Homo sapiens: one gene and its partners. The protein of the gene in region 3 interacts with the protein of the main gene of each other region in a biochemical or structural test. Each region holds a gene or a part of one and is shown on either strand. Other genes may lie near its edges.

Region 1 (5,949 bases), on a different chromosome or scaffold from region 3:
GGCTGAAATGACATGCAGCGGAGCTGTAGACACACCTGAGCCAGGTACACGGACCATGGACAGGAGACCCCGCTTGGTCCTCCCGGCCACCCTTCCGGAAGACACCCTCGTTTGCACCACCGCCACACAGGGACACACACGAGCAATTTCCTTTTGTCTTATGACAGCTCCTAAAAGGGACCCCACAGATATCTTCAAGAAAGTTTCGCTTACTTGATCCCACAAAACGGTGTCCTGAGCGCCTTCCAGAATGCAGGTCATTCCTCCAGGCATGGGTGAGGACCTGGGGGCTGTGCCTACCAGCGTGACCTGTTACTTCAGCTTTTGTTCCTAAGACTTCCAGTGTTCTTTCCTTGTCTTTTAAAAAAAAATCTTCAAATTTTCTCAAACTCTAGACTTTAAAGGAAACATGTTATCTTCAGTATCAAAGACAGACAGAATTTTCAAATCTAAAACAGCCCAAAGAAACTGTAAAGCTAACAAGCACACAGAAAACACATCAAAGAAGACGAAGCGACACATTCTGTGACATAAGAAAAATAATCAGTTTAATAATTACAACAGTGTAGCATCAACATTGTAGTAGTCAACACTAGGACATTGTCTGTGACATTTAAATTAGGAGTTTCTCCACACTTGTCAACAGGCGCCCTGGGTGTCCCAGAGAAGTGAAGAAATGATTGGCATTAAGGAGTCCACACAACCAGGGCAGGCATTCAAGGTCCCAGACGCCCAGCGCATGTGGACAAGCACAGACGCCACTGAGTGTGAAGGAACGAGCTTCTGATGCTACATTCCAACATCGCTGAAAACTGAAAGTGCTTCACATCTACAGGATAAGAAATGGCTTCATCTCCTCATCCATACAAGGTGAGAGCAAAGGAGTAACCCTCGGGCAAATCGTGGCCCCTTTAAACGTTTATATCAAGTTCCCACCCCCTTGGGAGGTCACACGGTGAAACAGACACAGTTATATACAACAGGGCAGGTTTTTAAAAAGAGTTGCTCTCAGACGCATTTTTCCTGCTCCCTAAAAAGCCGAGGAAGATACTGGATCCACAGAAAGAAAAGGCAATGCCGTAACATGAGGCCCTCATGGCCGCACCGTCCAGGGGAAGGGCTGTTAAAAACACAAGTATTCTTGTGAAATACTTCGATCTGAGCATTAAGGCAGGTCTGCAGGAGATCCGTCCTGGGGACTCGGACAGCAACGCTACCGGCTCCGAGAGGACAGTTAATGTCGCCTCCCGGCAGAGGGGCGGAGAGATCAGACAAGAGTTGTTCCTGAGTTAAAACCTGCTACAACAGCAAACTCCAATAAACTCAAGTTGAATGGTTTCCCACTGCAATGTCTTACGCATCACCAAAAAATAACTTGTAAAACTCAAGCTTACCAAAAAAGAAAGTGTTGATCTTTGCTTGTGCCCGCATGAGTGAATGATCTGCTAAGTTGAGGAAGCTGGCAATTCTAGTGAAAAGTCCAGGTGAGGCCAGGTTCTGCAGCATGGGGCAGGTCCACGCTGAGCCCAGGCAGACAACGTGACCAGTCACGGAAGGAAGCCAAAGGGGCTTGCTGGGCACCAGAGACTGTAATTAGCAAGGGCAAGGAAGAACCGTAAACAGCAACACAACACTCTCCCAAGGTGCCCAGCTCAAAGGCATCAGTACACAAAGGATTCAGGTGCAGTTAAAGGGCAATTTGGCCAATAGACAGAAAATCAGAGAGTCAAATCTGATGCGCAATGAGTTGTTCTGAGACCAGTAATCCACGGTGCTGCAATTTGGGTTTTTAAAGATAGAACACTTGTTCTACGGAAAAGTGTATCTCACTTTAAAACCAACCTTTTCACAGGAAAGGAAACCAAAAGCAAAGTCCCTGTGGTCACCCTTATTTATTGCTGAAGCAGAACGAAAACCTGCTCCACGGGCCGGGCTTCCTGCCCAGGACCGCACAGGCTTTCCAGAGCCAGCCTGGGCCCAGCGAGCCGCGGTGAGGACAGGCTTCGTCTCCTCTGCACTGGAACACAGTGGGGGAAACGTTCCCTGCTTATGCCTATGTTACTTAGTGGAACCTAAGGTGTATATTGCTTTATTCTTGCTGAAGGAGGGGATTTTACTTTCGGTGAGCACTGAAGCCTGCTGGCTACGGCCAATGGTGGAGGAGACCTCGGGATGAGGCTGGCCTGATGACAAAACTCCACCCATCAGTATCAGCCTGCAGCATGGCCTCCATCTGTTTTCATCAGCTGCAGTGACTTATAATAAATAATACATTCTATTTACAGGTTCTAGTAAGATCTCTCTTTGAGGGAAGACAAAACAGTGTATTTTGTTGTTACTGAACTAGCCTATACAGAACCGTCTGTGTCCTCCCAAAACGCAGCAAACTCATCTGAGAATCACAGTACTCAGACAGCGGACAAGAGCAAACACCTCTAGGTGGATGCGGCAGTGCCGTATGGGCCTTCCTTGAGGTCAAGACTGAGTCTGTCAGCCAGCAAGTTGCCCTCAGAAACCCGCAGGTCTGGGACTGTAATGCTGCTTTAAGAGAAGACTTCTGAATGGGACTGAAGTGTATCTCTGCAGGTATAAATAAGGTTATTTAGAAATACCGACATGGGGGGTGCTGCCACAGCACGGTGGAGGCCCTGGTGCTGCGGAACGAACCAGGCATCCACCAGGCTTCTGCTTCCGGTGGATGCGGGCATGGGACTTCTTATTCACGTAGCTGGAAAGGACATTCTAGCATGGGGATTAGCCCGGACAGAACCACCACAGGTATGCATTCAAAATGGGATATTTACAAGAAACATGTATATATAATATTTATATATTCAATTCAAAGTCTGGAAAAACAAGACTTTTAGTCAGTCACTGAACTTATTGCAGAATGAGGTAACTGAGATGTTCACAGAGTGGATTGATGTAGCTCAGGTCCTCAGAGTCAATCCCTCCTGTCTGGATTCATCAGTCATGGTTTGATCGTCTCCATTCGCAGAATAAGCTCCAGCTTTTCTATATACAGAGAGCAAGGTGGCGCCCCACCCAGCCCTGCCCTGTGGTCCTGAGTGCACCCCGACTTGGGTCAGGGGTGCCCAGCTTCACCTCAGAACTGGTCTTCAACAGAAAGAACTGAGGACATCCCTTATAGATTGGTCTCATCCCAGGCAGGATCATTCATGTTCTTCAGGACTTTCCTCACCAGCTTCTCCAGGTCTTTGCGGGCTCTCTGTTCTTCCTCTAGAGATTTCTTCATCTTTTTGTTGTCCTGTAAATTAAGCAGACCACAGGGTGTTCACTATCTTTGGCATCGCGTAGGGCTTCCTTTCCCCAAATGTGTATCCTTGAGGAGCTAAGGCCTCGATTCATGAAATCCCACGTGAGCTGCCTATGGGCTCTGAGGTCGTGGGGATCCACGAAGGTCAAACACCTGGACAGGGTGGCAGCGGTGCTCCTGACTGTGCTGCTGTTCCCGGGATGGAAATGGTCCTAATGGCTCTTATTAAGTCCATGAATGAATCTCTATAGAACATACCGTAAGAAAATAGCTGGAAACTGCGGACGAGACAGCTCCTATCCAGCCTTTTTGTCCATTTATAACCACCTTCCAGAGTTACAGAAAGGACTGGAAGTAACAGCCACTGACAGGTGCAGGAGCAAGTGGGCGAGCACCTGCTCTGTGCAGCTGAACCCAGGCATGTCTCGGACGTAGGAGGCATGCACAAACAGATGCCTGCTGCCGGTAGGGGCAAAGCGTGAACATGGAAGCCTGCCAGCCAGGCAAAGGTGTACCTGGAAGACCTGCGGACACTGCTTAGAATGACAGCACATGTCCAGTTCCACACAGCAACCTGCTCTCAGCTCTCTATCCCAGACCACAACTCTTCTCAGGCTGTTCCTCGGCCAAAAGAACACCCCAACCTTCCCTCACCTAGCTGGGCAGAGGACCAAAGCCGCTCGTACTCACATTCCGTGCAATGAACACCCCAACCTTCCCTCGCCTAGCTGGGCAGAGGACCAAAGCTGCTCATACTCACATTCCGTGCAATACCCAGAACACCCTTGGTTAGTCGCCACTTCTGGCTCGCTAACCTGGCTTCGGGAGCCAAGGACCATGCAGTGGCAGAGGCTAATCTCAGGGGCGCCTCGCAGGATTTGTCACCAGACAGAACTTTCGATATTTTAAATTATTCTTCCAACAGAATTTGCGATGTTTTATGACATCAAAATCAGTATTGTTAAGAAAAAAAAAAGAGTTTAAACAAGTCACTTTAGAGACAACCAATTATTTTATCTGCTGGACTTCTCAAAGACATGACCTCCTTTTAGTTTTTTGCTTATGGACAATCAGCTTTTTATTTTTATTTGAGACGGAGTCTTGCTCTGTGGCTCAGACTGGAGTGCAGTGGCACAATCTCGGCTCACAGCAACCTCCGCCTCCTAGGTTCAAGCAATTCTCCTGCCTCAGCCTCCCAAGTAGCTGGGTTACAGGCACCTGCCGCTATGCCCAGCTAATTTTCGTATTTTCAGTAGAGATGGGTTTTTGCCATGTTGGTGAGGTTGGTCTTGAACTCCTGACCTCAGGTGATCTGTCCACCTCGGCCTTCTAAAGTGCTGGGATTATAGGTGTGAGCCACCGTACCCAGCCAGCTTATTTTTAATGTAATTTTCTTCTTTTCTCCCATTTGAAAAGAAAAAAAAGATTTAAAGATGGATTATGACGTACCTGTCTTAATTCTTGAACTTCATCCTTTAATGCATATACGGTATCCACAAGACTCCTGAAACAGGAAACAGAACACACACACATGAACAAGGTGAGGCATGGAGAGGACACACGAAAACTTACCAGGAGACACTACGATGCTGAGAGGAGGACACGGAGCTGCTCTGCCTTACCCATGTACTGTCTACATTCACAACTAAAAACTGCCAACCTCTGTGCATGGCAGGTTCAAGCCTAGTCAAGGGCAACTTCAGCCTATGAAGACATTTTAAAAGTGAAGCTCTGGCCAGGCACAGTGGCTCACACCTGTAATCCCAGCATTTTGGGAGGCCGAGGCGGGCAGATCACCTGAGGTCAGGAGTTTGAGACCAGCCTGGCCAACAGGGTGAAAACTCGTTTCTACTAAAAATACAAAAATTAGCCAGGCGTGGTGGCACAGGCCTGTAATCCCAGCTACTCGGGAGGCTGAGGCAGGAGAACCGCTTGAACCCGGAAGGTGGAGGTTGCAGTGAGCTGAGATCGCACCATTGCACTCCAGCCTGGGTGACAAGAGTGACACTCCGTCTCAAAAAAAAAAAAAGTGAAGCTTCTGAAGCCATACCCCCGCCCTCAGGGAGTTGTCTGGACTCTACTACCCCACCGCAGAGGTCAAACATCTGCTTTAGAATACCGGAAGACATCTTACTTTTCTTCTATCACTGTCTGACCATTACTTTTAGTTTCTTCCACTATAATTTTCTCTTCTTCTGGAAGCAAAACTTGTGGAGCAGATTCTTTGCGTGAACCTAGGATCATGAAAAAATAATAAATAAACCTCAGGCGAATACCATGGCAGAATGAAGAAAAACAACTTGACTATACCATGTCACTTAAATATTAAGTTCTAGCAATTATGCATTTAAAAACGTTCATCCAGGCAAGCTAGAGGAGGGCATCTTTTACCAGTTCTCTTCACCTCTGTCTACCGAGCCCAGGCCTCCTCATGACCAAAGCCAGAGAGGGAAGGAAACTGTAGCCCTTTTCAAATCGGAATTACGGATTGTTGAAACCCCAGCATTTTCAACAGGGAGGAAGTTAAAGGTTGTGACTGTACTGCTCTGGATATTCATCCCATTTTGAGCCATTATTCCAAGAGTTTCAGCAAAGACATATGAGACCAATCAGAACATATACAGTGAGTGTTTATACATCAAAGATCTGGCAATAAAAACATTTTACTCTAC
Region 2 (6,894 bases), on a different chromosome or scaffold from region 3:
CACCCTCAAAGAACTTCGTTTCTTTCCTTCAGACAGTTTATCTTAGTTTGTAATAACATATAGTCAATATTTATTTTCCTAACAGCTGCCACCCCAAAGCATCTGTAAGCTCCAGGAGAGCAGGGACCTCACCTGGTTTTATATACCAGTTAGTTCCCAGTGACTGGCACATAGCCAGGCACTCTATAAACATTTTGAATGATGAATGATGAATGATTTTTTTACCTCTTACTTACTTATTGCCGTGTTATCTTAAGAATTATATGCAACTCCTCACCAGTCTCAAACTTGTAGTTAACTTCTTCCTCTTCATTATACCCCTACCCTATCACAAGGATCAGTCATTATTTTCTCACCCTCTCCTCCCCACTCTCTTCCACCAAAAAGTCTTAGAAGTGGCAGCTTCTAATCAGCCTGAACTTTCTGACATGGTTGGGATCCAGTTCAAGGTTATGCAATATGAAAAGATAAACAAAATAAAGGAAAAATGTGGAGACTGGAGTACCTATTAGGTGATTTTAAACAATGGACACAGCTCCTAAAGAACCTGCTAATTCAGTAAAAAAGAAAATTTTTAACTAATTTAATTTCAACCACTCTGTTTTATCATAGAGACAAAAACTGGTTGATTTGCTGATTTTTTTTTTTCACTTACTATGTTTTGGTCTAGCATAGAAGTCTTGGAACAGAGCTGACTGTGCTGTATTGGCAGGAAGTAACTCGCATGTGTGGTCTCTTAGAAATTATATGGAGACTGTTCCCAAATGACAGGGCTCTGTGCTTGAGGAGTCTTCTCTACTCAAGGGTCTTGGCCTGCTTCTTCCTTCCTACTTCCCCTCCAACTTCTCCTACATCTTCCCCTCCCCTTTTGTCCACCACAAAGCTTTGTCCCTCAGCCCCTTCATTGGACACCTGGGAGGCAGGTATAAAGCACCCGCTCTCCCAGGTTCCTACAGAGGAAAAATCCTAGGCATGCCAGTTAGGGAATCCTGGAGTGGAGATGGGAAAAGCAACAGCAAGGTGTGACTGATGAAGTTCTGTTTTAAGGAATAGGAACTACTGTGGTGTTAAGTTCTGGAAATCCAGAGCATTTCAGAAAACAGCCTGCATTATTTCTCTCAGTAACAGACTACCTAAACTGCACTTGGAAGATCCAGTTTAAGGGGAAAGATAAGTGTGTTTAGAACTTGACATGGACTCTTCCCCAATGTGCCTTTTCTTCAAATCTCTGGGATAATTGAAGCAAGTAAACGAAATGTCTTCTCGTTAGTAGGCTCCCTACCCTGAGGACCACCTTGTGAAAAATATTTGAGGACAAGAGAGGCGTTGCAAGGAGGAACACTGGAGATTAAGGGATGTGGGCAGTGGTGGTGACATCATTTTCTGGATAAAGAATCAAAAGACGGCGACAGAACACGTAGAGTGGGAAAGGCTATGGGTGTAGAAAGGAGACAGCAATAGACACACATGCTAGTGCACGCATTGCCTGTAGAAGATAAATGTTTGTATTATTTGACTTAAAAAAAGAAACATATGCATGTTATCTATTGAAAGCTATAATGTTAAAATAATGATAAGACTCCATCAGTCTGGTATGCCTTTTTTTTTTCTCCCCAGGAAATACACATGGAGGCTGGTGCTCAGGCCCCGGGAACTGACAATCTAATTTGATGCCACTGAAGCAAAGTTCCCAAGACAGCTGGTAGCTTGGACCAGGAATCCTGTGGGGGCACTGACGGCCCCTGGGGCCAGAGCTGACTCTGTGGCCCTCCCCTCCATATTCATACACTCTGTAAAAGCTACCTGTCCCCTTGTTAACACGTGGCAAGCGAGTCCTTTCTGACTATATCACAGGCAGAAACAAGGCAGAGGCACAAGAAACTACCAACAGCAGGCGTTTTGGTGCGCGCTCCCGTTCATTCGCGTGGGCGACCCGCTGCCCCTTCTAGGGGCACTGAACAATCCAGTTCTGAGCCGGGGAAAGCCTTGATCCTGTAATCTGGTCCCTACTTTCCCCCACGTTCACGCCCAATGCTCCCAGGCTGGAGCTGCTCCGGCGTGTGCCCCTCGTTCGGCCCGGAGCCCTTGGCCCCCAGACCCCGCCACGGCCCCTCCCCCACCAGGGGCGCTTTCCTCCCGCCCTCCTTGGGTTCCCCGGTCCTACCTGCGCCGCGGCCAGGGCTCCCTCGCACAGAGGCAGCTCCGGCCCCTCGGCCGTGGGTCTCCACGAGGATGAGCTCTGGTCTGATCTCAGGACTGCGCGCAGCCCCGCTCCCTATGCCAAGGTCACGGTCTTGGAGAGGCGCGTCTGGCTCGCTGCGCTCCCGGCGCCCGCCTTCGGGTCCGGCCACAGCAGCCCCCGCAGACCCTCTGGGCGGCCGCTGCGGCCCCGGCCCCGGCCCCGGAGCTCCGCCCCTCTCCTGCTCCCCGCCCGCTTGCCCCCTCGGGGTCCCCAACTGCCGAGCCCAGCTCCCCTCGTAGCCCACTCGCGGGCTGCCTTCTAACCCCTACCCCAGTTAGTCCCGGTTCCTTCACCGTCTCCTTAGCCCGCAGAGAGCTTAGCTGACTCTTCAGGGTCGCTGAGGGCGCGTCTTCGGTTCCCCGAGGGCCACAGGCCGGCTCGGGTCCCCAGCAGACGGCGAGCCCCGCGCTTAGGTCCTCTCCTGCCCTCTCCCGTGCCGAGCCAGGGGTTCCCGGCTCTCAAATCCTGTTCCCGCTGTCCTCTTCCCTGACCCCTACTCCTTGGCGATGGAAAGAAGCTTAGGGCGCTTACGACGCCACCAACGTTCTCTGTGCCGAGGGTGGCACAATTTTTTTTTTTCTGATATAAGGCCAGAGATTCACAGTAAAATAAATACAAATCGCGTGCCCAAACTCTTACTCATTCTGCAAGACTCAGGTCAAGCGTTGCCTGTGCCGCAAGACCTCGGTGCTGGCAAACAGCTCCCTCCTTCCACTCTCCTGCGCGAAAGGGCGTGCGGTCCTTCCTGGCTGCAGCCAGGTGCCTGTTGCACTTGGTCTACTCTACCCGACTCCACAGCGCGCTGCTTGGAGGCCCGGACCTGGCCTTGCTTATCCTTGTCCCTAGCCCCTGGCACGGTGCCTGCCACCCATCACAGCACTAGAATATTTTATGAATAAGTGGAAAATTAATTTCTTTTGTAGAAAACCAGTTTTTTTGTATGTGTTTGTTTGTTTTTGGCTTTTTACTCTCAAATAAAGCATACTCCTTTGGGTGGGCAATTTGCTAGGCTCTATAAAGAAACACCAAAAATATTATCCCCTTTAATGCAGTATTCCACCCTTGCGGAAATTTCCAGAACAAAATAATATTCGTGCGGAGATTTTTTTTTTAGCAGGATCATTTGTTACAGAAAATAATTTTAAAAACCACAAAAAGCAAACAGAGCCAAACTGTCAACAGTAGGAAATTTGTTGAATAAATTAGGGTGACTTAATGGGACATTATACAACCATTAAAATGATAAACATCAAGACAGAAGTGCTTCAAATTCTTTTTAGAATAAGGAGGGAGTATGTATTTATTTATAAAGCAAAAAAAAAATAGGAAAACATGAAGTAACATGATAAAATGTTTGCAAAATACTGTTAAGCAAAAAGCAGAAAATTGGGTCGTTTACCATGTTTAAGAACTTCAAATAAAAATGCAGATTTCTTCTCTGCAAAATGGCGATAACATCTACCTCAGGGGGTCCTTGGAGTGTTAAATGAAATAGTCAAGGAAAGTGCCCTGTATAGAATGGATACTCAACAAAGTTTCCATTTCTTTTCTTCAATGGAACACAGACTCAAATCCAGCATGTCAAACACATCCTCATTATGGCCAAGTTCTGCCCATTTGGCTTCCTTTCCCTCAAATACAGGGTAGGAGAAGGAGCTGAGCAAATGCTAAAGCACCAGTGAAGGGGGCAAAATCTGGTTAATAGGAATAAATGTGAAGTCCTCCCTCAGGCCGAAACACCCAGCAATGTAAGTAATGGAGGATGTGGCTCAGTAGTGGTGCCTATCAAAATACCTTAGATTTTATTTTAGTTGGCTACAAGCACAGCTTTGTGAACACCCAAAGGCTGAACGAGTTCAGTTCAAAACCCGAATGAGGCTGCAATCTTAGGCTGAACTGATGCTCTTCACTGGTCGGATTACACCTGGGCATAATGTCCAAATTTGGGCACTATCTTTAAGAAAGTATTACTCTGAAGATCTATTATTGCTTCCATTTTAAAGACGAAGAAACTGATGCATACAGTTTCAGGTATTTAGGGTTGGGTGGCTAGGAGTTGGCAGAGCCAAGAGCTGAACCTGATCAGCTTGACTTACAGTCCTGGTGCTTGATCACTTTACCAGTGTGTCCCAGTGTGTACATCTTCCAGTAGAGATTGGAAGCATGGTATTGGGTGGTACACAGACAATACAATTAGATAACAGTGGATCACAAGGTGAAAAAAGATATGCCCTTTTTACTTCTTTTGTTCCTATGGATTATGTCAAGGAAGGAGTATCATTTTTGTAGTATTTGTCTTTGCACCCCTCTGTAACACTTGCTAATCTCCTGTTTTAACAAAGACAGAGGTTGCCTCTCACTCAGAACCTTTGCTAGGCAACAGCTCCTAAGTAGAATTTAATATCATTGTTTTCTCTTCCATCTGTTATTATTCCTTATGCAGTTAAGTTCCAATTGACATAGTTTTCCACTGACAAAGTGATGTGGTTTCCATTTAAGGTAAATTTTCTTATATGAGAAAAATGAGCAACTTGAAAGAAAGATCTAAAAGAACTAATAGGACCAGTGATGTTTAAATTTTGGAAATACAAGCCCATACTCTATTATGACCAGTGGATAGAAGGAATGACAGAAAGGTTTCAGTCCACAATGAATCAGGGCTGCCTGGGAAGATGCTGAAGGACAGCCTTGGGAGCTCAAACGCTGTGGCTAGAAGCTTTAAAGTTCCTGCCAACCAGGAGAATCTGGGATTCTTGACAGCAGGGCTTCTCAGGTATCTAACCTCTAGAAACACAGATTTTGGAGCAAGTTACATTCACTCCTTTTGGACAGATCCAAAAAAAGGGTTCCAAGTAAGCTCAGAACAATAGCAGCACCTCTGTGACCATGGTATAATTAACAGAGCACTAGCAGATTCTCTCTAAGGTAACTTTTGAAAGAGACAACATTTGGGAGGTTTACACTTCAATCATTTACTCCCTTACACCTTCTTTTGGTATACCCTCTATTCCTAACATCCCCGAGGGCCAAGATGGTGGGGCTGTTCCTCCTTCCTTTCATGTTCCAGCATTTCCCATCCCCAAATTCCATATCGTGTGGCCTCTGTTTCCCCTAAGGCAGCTCCCCTTGCTATTTTTTTAACCCTTTGGACTAGTATTAAAATGGATGTGTGGGGAAAAAAGGGTTTATAGGGTCCCCAGCAGTTAAAAAGTATCTTTGGTATAGGAAATTTATTTTGAAACCATAAAGTCTGAAAATCCATAATGTACAAAACCATAATCTGATTGCCTTATGGTTCAAGAATATTTGGTGAGTAGACATCACCTGGGCCCCTGACTGCTAAGAACAGAAAGCCACTTGGGAACATATAGGGCAGATAAGCTGTAGGGAAAAGACCATTCAGACAGTCCAGTGAAAGGACTAAATGCTTCCACTGGAGGAGCTACATCAGGGGAAGCTTGTTCAATTGGATTAGGAAATTCTTTACTGAGACACCTCTGATGCCTCTCTTTTCCTCACTTACTATCTCCAACCCATCTACAAGTCCTGATGGATTGACTTTCAAAATACATCCAGACTCAACCTCTTTTTCCTACCTCCACCACTACCAGCCCTATCCAAGCTGGCATCATCTTTCTCTTAGAAAACCTCCTATCTGGTTTTCCTGCACTGACCTTGCCTTCCTACAGGCTGTTCTTCCCAAAGCAACTGCAATGACACATTTAAAAATAAAATTGGATTCGGTCATTTCCCTGCTCAAAACCATGTCTGTAATGGATTCCTGTCTCAGAGTGAAATTCAGTAAATTTCATGGCCCATTAAGGCCATCATCATGTGGGTCCTGGCTGTGTCTCTGATCTCTCTACCAGCTTCCTTGTCTTCACACATACTGGTTTCCTTGCTGGTCTTTGGATGTGCCCAGCATACCCTGTGTTGGACCTTTGCATTTCCTTCTCTCAGTCTGGAGCTCTCTTCTCCCTCTTTTTTTTTTTTTTTTTGGAGACTGAGTCTTGTTCTGTCACCCAGGCTGGAGTGCAGTGACACAATCTCGGCTAACTGCAACCTCTGACTCCCAGGTTCAAGCGATTCTCCTGCCTCAGCCTCCTGAGTAGCTGGGATTACAGGTGCATGCCACTATGCCTGGTTAATTTTTGTATTTTTAGTAGAGATGGGGTTTCACCATGTTGGTCAGGCTTGTCTCGAACTCCTAACCTTGTGATCCCTCCCTTCTTTTGCTCTCTATTCAGAGAGGTATTCCTTTGGCTTTCCTATCTCATAAATGACATAGCCCCTCTTTCATCTTACTCCATCACTGTTTCCTTACCCTGCGTTTTTGGGGTGTTGTAAACTTTACTGATGGCTTGAGAACAATAAAATTGGTGGTGGAGATGGAGTCACAGAGTGGTTAGAGCAAATTGTAGCATCGAAAACAATTTTATTTAATTTTTAAATTTTGTTTTGTTATTTTTTTTTAGATGGAGTCTCACTCTGTGGCCCAGGCTGGAGTGCAGTGGCACAATCTTGGCTCACTGCAACCTCCACCTCCTGGGTTCAAGCTATTATCCTGCCTCAGCCTCCTGAGTAACTGGGATTACAGGCACGCACCACCATGCCCGGCTATTTTTTTGTATTTCTTTTTTTGAGATGGAGTC
Region 3 (7,148 bases):
ATACCTGCCGGTTATTCCTAGCTTACATTAGTAATGCAGCAAAGAGTAATATTAAAAGCTAATGATTAATAATGTTTATAATAATGATTGATAATTGTCCATGATCATCTCTACATCTAATTTGTATTATGACTATTCTTATTCTAACTATTTTGTTTATTATACTGAAACAGTTTGTGCCTTCAGTCTCTTGCCTGGGCACCTAGGTAATCCTCCGCCTACATATTTCCCGGACCTCAGGAGAATCACAAATACACAAATAAATATAAGCCCTACAAAATTCCCAGATCAGGCCCGGCGGGTGGCTCACGTCTGTAATCCCAGCACTTTGGGAGGCTGAGGCGGGTGGATCACGAGGTTAGGAGATCGAGACCATCCTGGCCAACATGGTGAAACCCCGTCTTTACTAAAAATACAAAAATTAGCCGGGCGTGGTGGAGGGCACCTGTAGTTCCAGCTACTCATGAGGCTGAGGCAGGAGAATCGCTTGAACCTGGGAGGCGGAGGTTGTAGTGAGCCGAGATCGCGCCACACTGCACTCCAGCCTGGGAGACAGAGCGGGACTCCGTCTGAAAAAAAAAAAAAAAAAAAAAAAAAAAAAATATATATATATATATATATATATATATATATATATATATATTCCATGATCAGCCGGCGCGGAGGCTCACGCCTGTAGTCCCAACACTGGGAGGACAAGGCGGGAGGATCGCTTAAGCCCAGGAGTTCAAGACCAGCCTGGGCAACACAGCAAGACCTCGTCTCTATTTAAAAAAAAGTTTTAAAGAAAATTCGATGATCACAGAACCCGCTATCTGCATCTACATCCGCAAAAGCAATTGGGGAGAGATACCGCAAGGGAGGGAAGGGTTCCCCTGGAAGGGGAGAAGGAAAGGCCAGCTGGGGCACACACTGTCGTTGGATGAGGAAAGGCCTCCTTTTCATTTCTGCAGCGTCCACTCTTGAGCTCCAACCCACTCCATCGCTGTCTTCTTAAAGGACGCCTCGCCCACCCTTCTCTCCCATCCCATGCCTGAATCCCTTCTGGAAGGCATCCGAAAGAACAGCTATAGAACTCTGGGGTGATACGTTGGTTAACTCGGGAAAGAACTCAAGGACACTGGACTAGAACGTGGTGGGATTCCTAGGTCGGTTTCGGGGCCATCCCCGCCGCCTATCCTTCGCCCTAGGTCACCTGGAGGTGGCTGGAAGGCCAGTGGACTCCACATTTAGGGAGAGTGGTTACAAGAGGACTCGGATTCCCCCACCTTCCCTTCGGCTTTGGGAATCCCAGGAAACCCGCCCCGAACCCCTGAAAAGTCCCAGAGAAGGTAAGCTGGGCGTCCAGAGTCCCTCCCAGGCGCCGCCGCAGCGTCCCGCCCAGCCTCGCGGGGCACGCCGGGAGGCGGAGTTCTCGGTCGTGTCCCGAGAGTGGCTGGTCCGCAGGCTCGGACTACCAGTCCCAGAATGCACTGCGCCCGCAGCCCGGGGCGGGCCGTGGTTGCCCCTGGCAACAGAGAGGGTCTCCCGGGAGCGGGGACTGGGAAGCGCTCCCGAGCCGGGGAGGCGCAGAGCCCGACCAGAGAGAGGCGGGGACGCGGGTAGAGCGACCAAGAGGTGTGGAGGCCGGAAGAGACTGACCGCGCCGGCCCTTGGAGAGACCCCTTTCCTGAGAGGGGGCGCACAGAGAGGATGCCGAAGCCAGCGAGATCTAGAGAGAGGGAGACAGGGATTGAATCACAGAGACACTTAGAGGGAGGGAGAGACCTCAAAGACAGAGAGATTCACAGGGCCAGAGAGACACGTAGAGTGGGTCAGAGAAGAGGACAGAGGACAGAGACATAGAAAAGACAGGAGGGAGAGAGACTGAATCACAGAGACACAGGGAGAGAGGGAGAGACCTCAGAGATGGAGAGAGACTCACAGGGCCAGATAGACACATGGAGTGGGTCAGAGAAGGGGACAGAGAGAGAGACACAGAAAAGGGAAGAGGGAGAGAGACTGAATCACAGAGACACAGAGAGGGAAGTCTCTATCTAGAGACCCTCGACAGAGATTCCTAGAGCCAGAGACAGAGATTCAGAGAGCCAGAGACACAGAGAGATTCATAGAGACATATAGAGAGATTCAGAGAGCCTGAATCACAGAGATTCACAGAGCCAACGAGACAAACAGAGAGATTCATAGAGCCAGAGACACAGATTCGGAGAGTCAGAGAGACATAGAAAGATTCATAGAGCCAGAGACACAGAGATTCAGAGAGTCAGAGAGACATAGAGAGACATTCATAGAGCCAGAGACACAGAGAGATTCATAGACATATAGAGAGATTCAGAGAGCCTGAATCACAGAGATTCACAGAGCCAAAGAGACAAACAGAGAGATTCATAGAGCCAGAGACACAGAGGGATTCGGAGAGTCAGAGAGACATAGAAAGAGATTCATAGAGCCAGAGACACAGAGATTCATAGAGACATAGAGATTCATAGAGCCAGAGACACAGAGATTCAGAGAGTCAGAGAGACATAGAAAGACATTCATAGAGCCAGAGACACAGAGAGATTCAGAGTCAGAGAAACATAGAGATTCATAGAGCCAGAGACACAGAGAGATTCAGAGTCAGAGAGACATAGAGAGACATTCATAGAGCCGGAGACACAGAGAGATTCAGAGTCAGAGAGACATAGATTTATAGAGCCAGAGACACAGATTCAGGGAGTCAGAGAGACATAGAGAGACATTCATAGAGCCGGAGACACAGATTCAGAGTCAGAGAGACATAGACATTCATAGAGCCAGAGACACAGATTCAGAGAGTCAGAGAGATGAATAGATTCAGAGAGCCAGAGACACAGGGAGAGTGAATCACAGACACAGAGGGACGGGGAGATCCCCAGAAACAGAAAGAGATTCATAGAGCCAGAGAGACAAATAGAGATTGGGTCAGAGAGAAAGGGACAGAGACAGAGACAGAGAAGAGAAGAGGGAGAGAGATTGGGTCAGAGAGAAAGGGACAGAGACAGAGAAGAGAAGAGGGAGAGAGAGACTGAGTCATAGACAGGAGAGAGACCCCCCTAGCATCAGAGAGAGAGAGAGAGATCAACAGAGCCAGAGAGGGACAAGTACAGAGAAACAGATGGAACCAGAGAGATATAGGAAGAGACAAACAAAAACAGAGACGGAGTTGCAGAACCGGAGGAAGGGAGAGAGACAGAGACAAAGGCATTTATAAAGACGGGTGGAGGTGAGGAGAGAGAGGGAGAGACAGGGGCAAGCATTTAGAGAGTGACTCCCAGAGAGGAAGACAGAGACGGACTCCCAAAGAGATCAAGTTGCAGAGGGAGGGGGAGACAGAGTCACAGCCTGAGAGAGAATAGAGATTCACAGAGCCAGAGAGACAAAGACAGGGAAAGAAACAAACTCAGGGAGACAGAGGCGGAAGAATTTATCAGACGTAGAGGGAGAGACAGAGGGAGACTGATTCACAGTGAGGCAGACCAAGACCCCGAGAAGAACCACGACACCAAGACCCAGAGATGGCGACAGATACAGATGGAGACACACAGCAGAGGAAATAGAGAAATAGAAAGAAATAGAAACAGCATTTCTCGGAGACAGGGAAAAGAAAACAGATCCACTGAGAGGCAGAAACAGAGACACATCGAGAAAGCTCGCTCCAGGAATAGAGGGAGAGGGACAGAGGTCACAAGAAAGACACACGCAGGCAGAGAGCTACACAAATAATGGAGAGGCCAGGGGAGGAAATAAAGACTCAGCCGGCATCGGAGAAAGTGAGAACCTTAGCGCCCTGCCTGTCCACTGCTGGACCCCTAGCGTGGAGCATAAAGTTTGTTGAAGGAAGGAGAGGGGCAGGGTCAGACACAGGGACCCCAGGGCGCCCACAGGACACACGAGGCACCCTAGTGGGGGAGGAACGCGGGGCAGGATGACAGATTGCAGGGTGGTGGGGGGGAGCCAGGCTCAGAGGATGCCCCTCCCTCCAGCCAGCCCCCGGAGTGGGTGTGTGCACGTGTGGGGGGCGGGGAGGGAGGACATTTGTCCCGTGTCTCCGGGAGGGGAGCGCCTTTAAGCCGAAACCCCGCCCTCTCGGTCGTCCTGGCAACGCCTCCCCCAACCCGGGGCTCCCACATTTCAGCAGGTGCCGGAGCTGGAGCTCCCACCGCCGCCGCCCGTGCCTCCGGCTGCCGGCGCCCCTGCCTTTGGCTCTTCCTCCCCACTCGCCCGCTCCCCCTGGCGGAGCCGGCGCGCCCGGGGTGCCGCTCCCTGCCTGGCGCGCTCCGCACCTGGAGGTGCCTTGCCCCTCTCCTGCCCACCTCGGAATTTCCCTGTGGCTCCTTTGATCCTTCGAGTCTCCAGCTCCTCTCCCTTCCACCTGTTTCCCCCAAGAAAGGCAGGATCCTGGTCCCTGCTACGTTTCTGGGGCCATGGCTGGTCTGGGCCCCGGCGTAGGCGATTCAGAGGGGGGACCCCGGCCCCTGTTTTGCAGAAAGGGGGCCCTGAGGCAGAAGGTGGTCCACGAAGTCAAGAGCCACAAGTTCACCGCTCGCTTCTTCAAGCAGCCCACCTTCTGCAGCCACTGCACCGACTTCATCTGGTGAGGGAAGGGGGCTGGGGGACTGGGGGACGAGGGGACTAGGGGTGCAGACTCCTATCACGCCGACCCCTGTGGAAGGAAGAAGGAGGGGGCTGTAGTCCCGACTCCCAGGTTCTAGGATGGCCAGGGAACGCTGGGAGCTTCGACTCCTGGGTTTCAGTGAGGAGGAGGCTGGTTCCTGGAGTGCTGGGTCCGAGGGAGGAGGAGGCTGGAGGACAGAGGTCCTGGAGTCTTGGGTCTGAGGGAGGAAGGGCCTGGGGGGCTGGGAGCCTGGATTCCTGGGTCTGAAGGAGGAAGAAACTGGGGGCTGAACTCCAGTCTAAGGGAAGAAGGGCTGGGGGCCAAAATTTCTGGGTTCTAGAAAGAGGAGGTGGCCGGGGCTTGGACACCTGGGCCCTGCGGGAGGAGGGTCAGAGAGCGCAGGCCCCCTGTGGCTCGCAGAGGTTGGGGGTCCAGGTACCCCTTTCTGCACTGACCTAGGATCCCTGACTCTTCCAGGGGTATCGGAAAGCAGGGCCTGCAATGTCAAGGTAAGAGCTGGGGACCGGGGCTCCTGGGACCCTCAGGAGGGTGGAGGCTGGGGCCCCACAGCTGAGGCTGCTTGACACACGTGTTCTCTGGTCCCCAGAGAGGCGCGGGGGAGCCCGGGGCGGGGGGTGTGGCAGAGACACAGCCTGTGGTGGGGAGGGAGCTTTGATGGTGGGGCCACCGCGGAGGTGGTGCTGGGGGCCCCTCCCTCGGCCGGCTCCAGGTGGGGACAGATATTTGGAGAATCTGTTGCCATGGGAACATGGAGATTTGGAAAAGGGGAGCTGAAGGGGGGAAGGGGGAGGGGGCTGGAGATGCAAAGTCAGAGCCCCCCCCCACCCCAGGCTGCCGTCGCCATGACAACACCAGCCGTCCTAGGCAGGGGCAGGCCGGGTGGGGTCACCAATGGGCGAGTGGGGGCCGGGCGGGGCCGGCAGTTCTGGGGGGCGGGAGAGGGGGGCGAGTCCTTGAGCACCAGCTGCTACTGCTGAGAACAGAGTGAGTCAGGGTGGGGGGCGGGCCGGCAGCAGCGCCCCCAGACTCACTTCTGCCCAAGTTGCTGCTTCCTGGGCTGCGTCTGAAGATATTTCGGTTTTCGCTCTTTGAATCTGTCTGCCTCTCTCCTGGCTTTCTGATCTCCGTCCGTGGGCCTGTGTCTGTTTGTCAATGGGATCCTATTTTCTTTCTCTCTTTTTCCATCTCCCTTCCCTGAGCTCTGTGCTCTGTGTCTCTCTGTAAGTCTCTGCGTCTCTGTTTCTGACTCTGAGCCCATCTCTTGGGTTTCTGTCTCCTGCTTCTCTCTCTGGCCTCCGATTTTCTCTCTGTTGGACTCTCTGTGTTGAGATCCCTCTCTTTCTGGTTTTCTCAGTGTCCGAGTTCCGCTCTCTCTTTCCAATTTTCTGTCTGCTGGGGTCTCCCGCTGGACTAATCCATGCCTCCGTCTGTGTCTCTATGATTTTCATCTATAGTCTGCAGCTTTGTGGTTCATCGACGATGCCACGAATTTGTGACCTTCGAGTGTCCAGGCGCTGGGAAGGGCCCCCAGACGGACGTGAGTGCTCGGACACCTGGTTCTCCTCCTCGGGCCGTGCCCCCGCCCTCACCCCCTCGGCGTCCGTCCCAATTTCTCCTGCTATTTTTATGGCTGGGAGGGGAGGGGGGCTGGAGAGATAGGGGGAGCTATCTGGCCCAGATTCCTTGCCCTTGGCCTGGAAAGGGGGAATGCGAGGGGGACTGACAGGCTGGGGACACGGGTGGGGCACAGAGAGGAGGCCGGGGTGAGGAGACTGAAGATGGGTGCTGCCGGGGGTGGGCTGTGATCCAGGGGTGAAGGGATTTAAAAATTGAGAGCTGAGGGGCACACGGAGAAAAATATCAGTGCAGGTGCGGAGATGCCAACATAAGACAGAGGGAATCTCAGGGAGAGGAACAGAGACAGAAGAAGACAGAGACCTAGGAGAGACTGAAGCTGAGGCAGAGAGAGAGAGAGATGGAGCAGAGAAAGAACCAGGGAGAAAGAGAGGAATTTGGAGGCACCAAAAGATGGACAGAGAAACTCCAAGAGACGGAGACACAGACACCTGGAGAAAGAGACTAAAATAGAAAATGGTGGATACAGACAACAGCTTAGGAGATGCTGAGAGGAGACCCAGGGAAGTCCCACAGTACACTTGCACACATGTGCGTGCATGTACAGATGCCCCTGTCATCACAGATGTGCAGCACGCAGAGACACACAGCCTCTCCCCACCCCCTCTCTCTCCATCAGAGGCTCACAAGACCAGTCAACCCTGAGTGCCCATTCCCGTTCCCTTTTCTGCTTTATCTCTGAGCCTCAGTTTCCTCCTCTATAAAATGGGGCTGATGATCTAGCATTGACCAACAGAACTGTTTACAGTGACGGAAGCATTCTGTACATGCACTGTCCAATAGGCAGCCACCAGCTCCATGTAGCCAGTGAGCACTTGAAACAGGGCGACTGTGGCTGAGGATTAGAAATTCCATT

Evidence for each region. Proteins that work in one complex are often made in the same cells at the same time.
Region 1: of the proteins of PRKCG (region 3) and ARHGEF7, one has a biochemical effect on the other in vitro, tested with the Homo sapiens proteins (one study listed by BioGRID).
Region 2: of the proteins of PRKCG (region 3) and CASR, one has a biochemical effect on the other in vitro, tested with the Homo sapiens proteins (one study listed by BioGRID).

Annotation. Positions count from the first base shown.
Region 1 is NC_000013.11:111,300,310-111,306,258, reverse strand, and holds the end of ARHGEF7 (rho guanine nucleotide exchange factor 7), read right to left. Parts: intron 5,512-5,949; coding exon 5,412-5,511; intron 4,782-5,411; coding exon 4,727-4,781; intron 3,269-4,726; coding exon 3,146-3,268; 3' UTR 527-3,145; downstream 1-526. UniProt on the Homo sapiens protein: Acts as a RAC1 guanine nucleotide exchange factor (GEF) and can induce membrane ruffling. Functions in cell migration, attachment and cell spreading. Promotes targeting of RAC1 to focal adhesions. May function as a positive regulator of apoptosis.
Region 2 is NC_000003.12:122,179,800-122,186,693, reverse strand, and holds the start of CASR (extracellular calcium-sensing receptor isoform 2 precursor), read right to left. Parts: upstream 3,027-6,894; 5' UTR 2,882-3,026; intron 2,368-2,881; exon of another isoform or gene 2,165-2,367; intron 1-2,164. UniProt on the Homo sapiens protein: G-protein-coupled receptor that senses changes in the extracellular concentration of calcium ions and plays a key role in maintaining calcium homeostasis.
Region 3 is NC_000019.10:53,878,050-53,885,197, forward strand, and holds the start of PRKCG (protein kinase C gamma type), read left to right. Parts: upstream 1-4,147; 5' UTR 4,148-4,445; coding exon 4,446-4,615; intron 4,616-5,113; coding exon 5,114-5,145; intron 5,146-6,111; coding exon 6,112-6,194; intron 6,195-7,148. UniProt on the Homo sapiens protein: Calcium-activated, phospholipid- and diacylglycerol (DAG)-dependent serine/threonine-protein kinase that plays diverse roles in neuronal cells and eye tissues, such as regulation of the neuronal receptors GRIA4/GLUR4 and GRIN1/NMDAR1, modulation of receptors and neuronal functions related to sensitivity to opiates, pain and alcohol, mediation of synaptic function and cell survival after ischemia, and inhibition of gap junction activity after oxidative stress.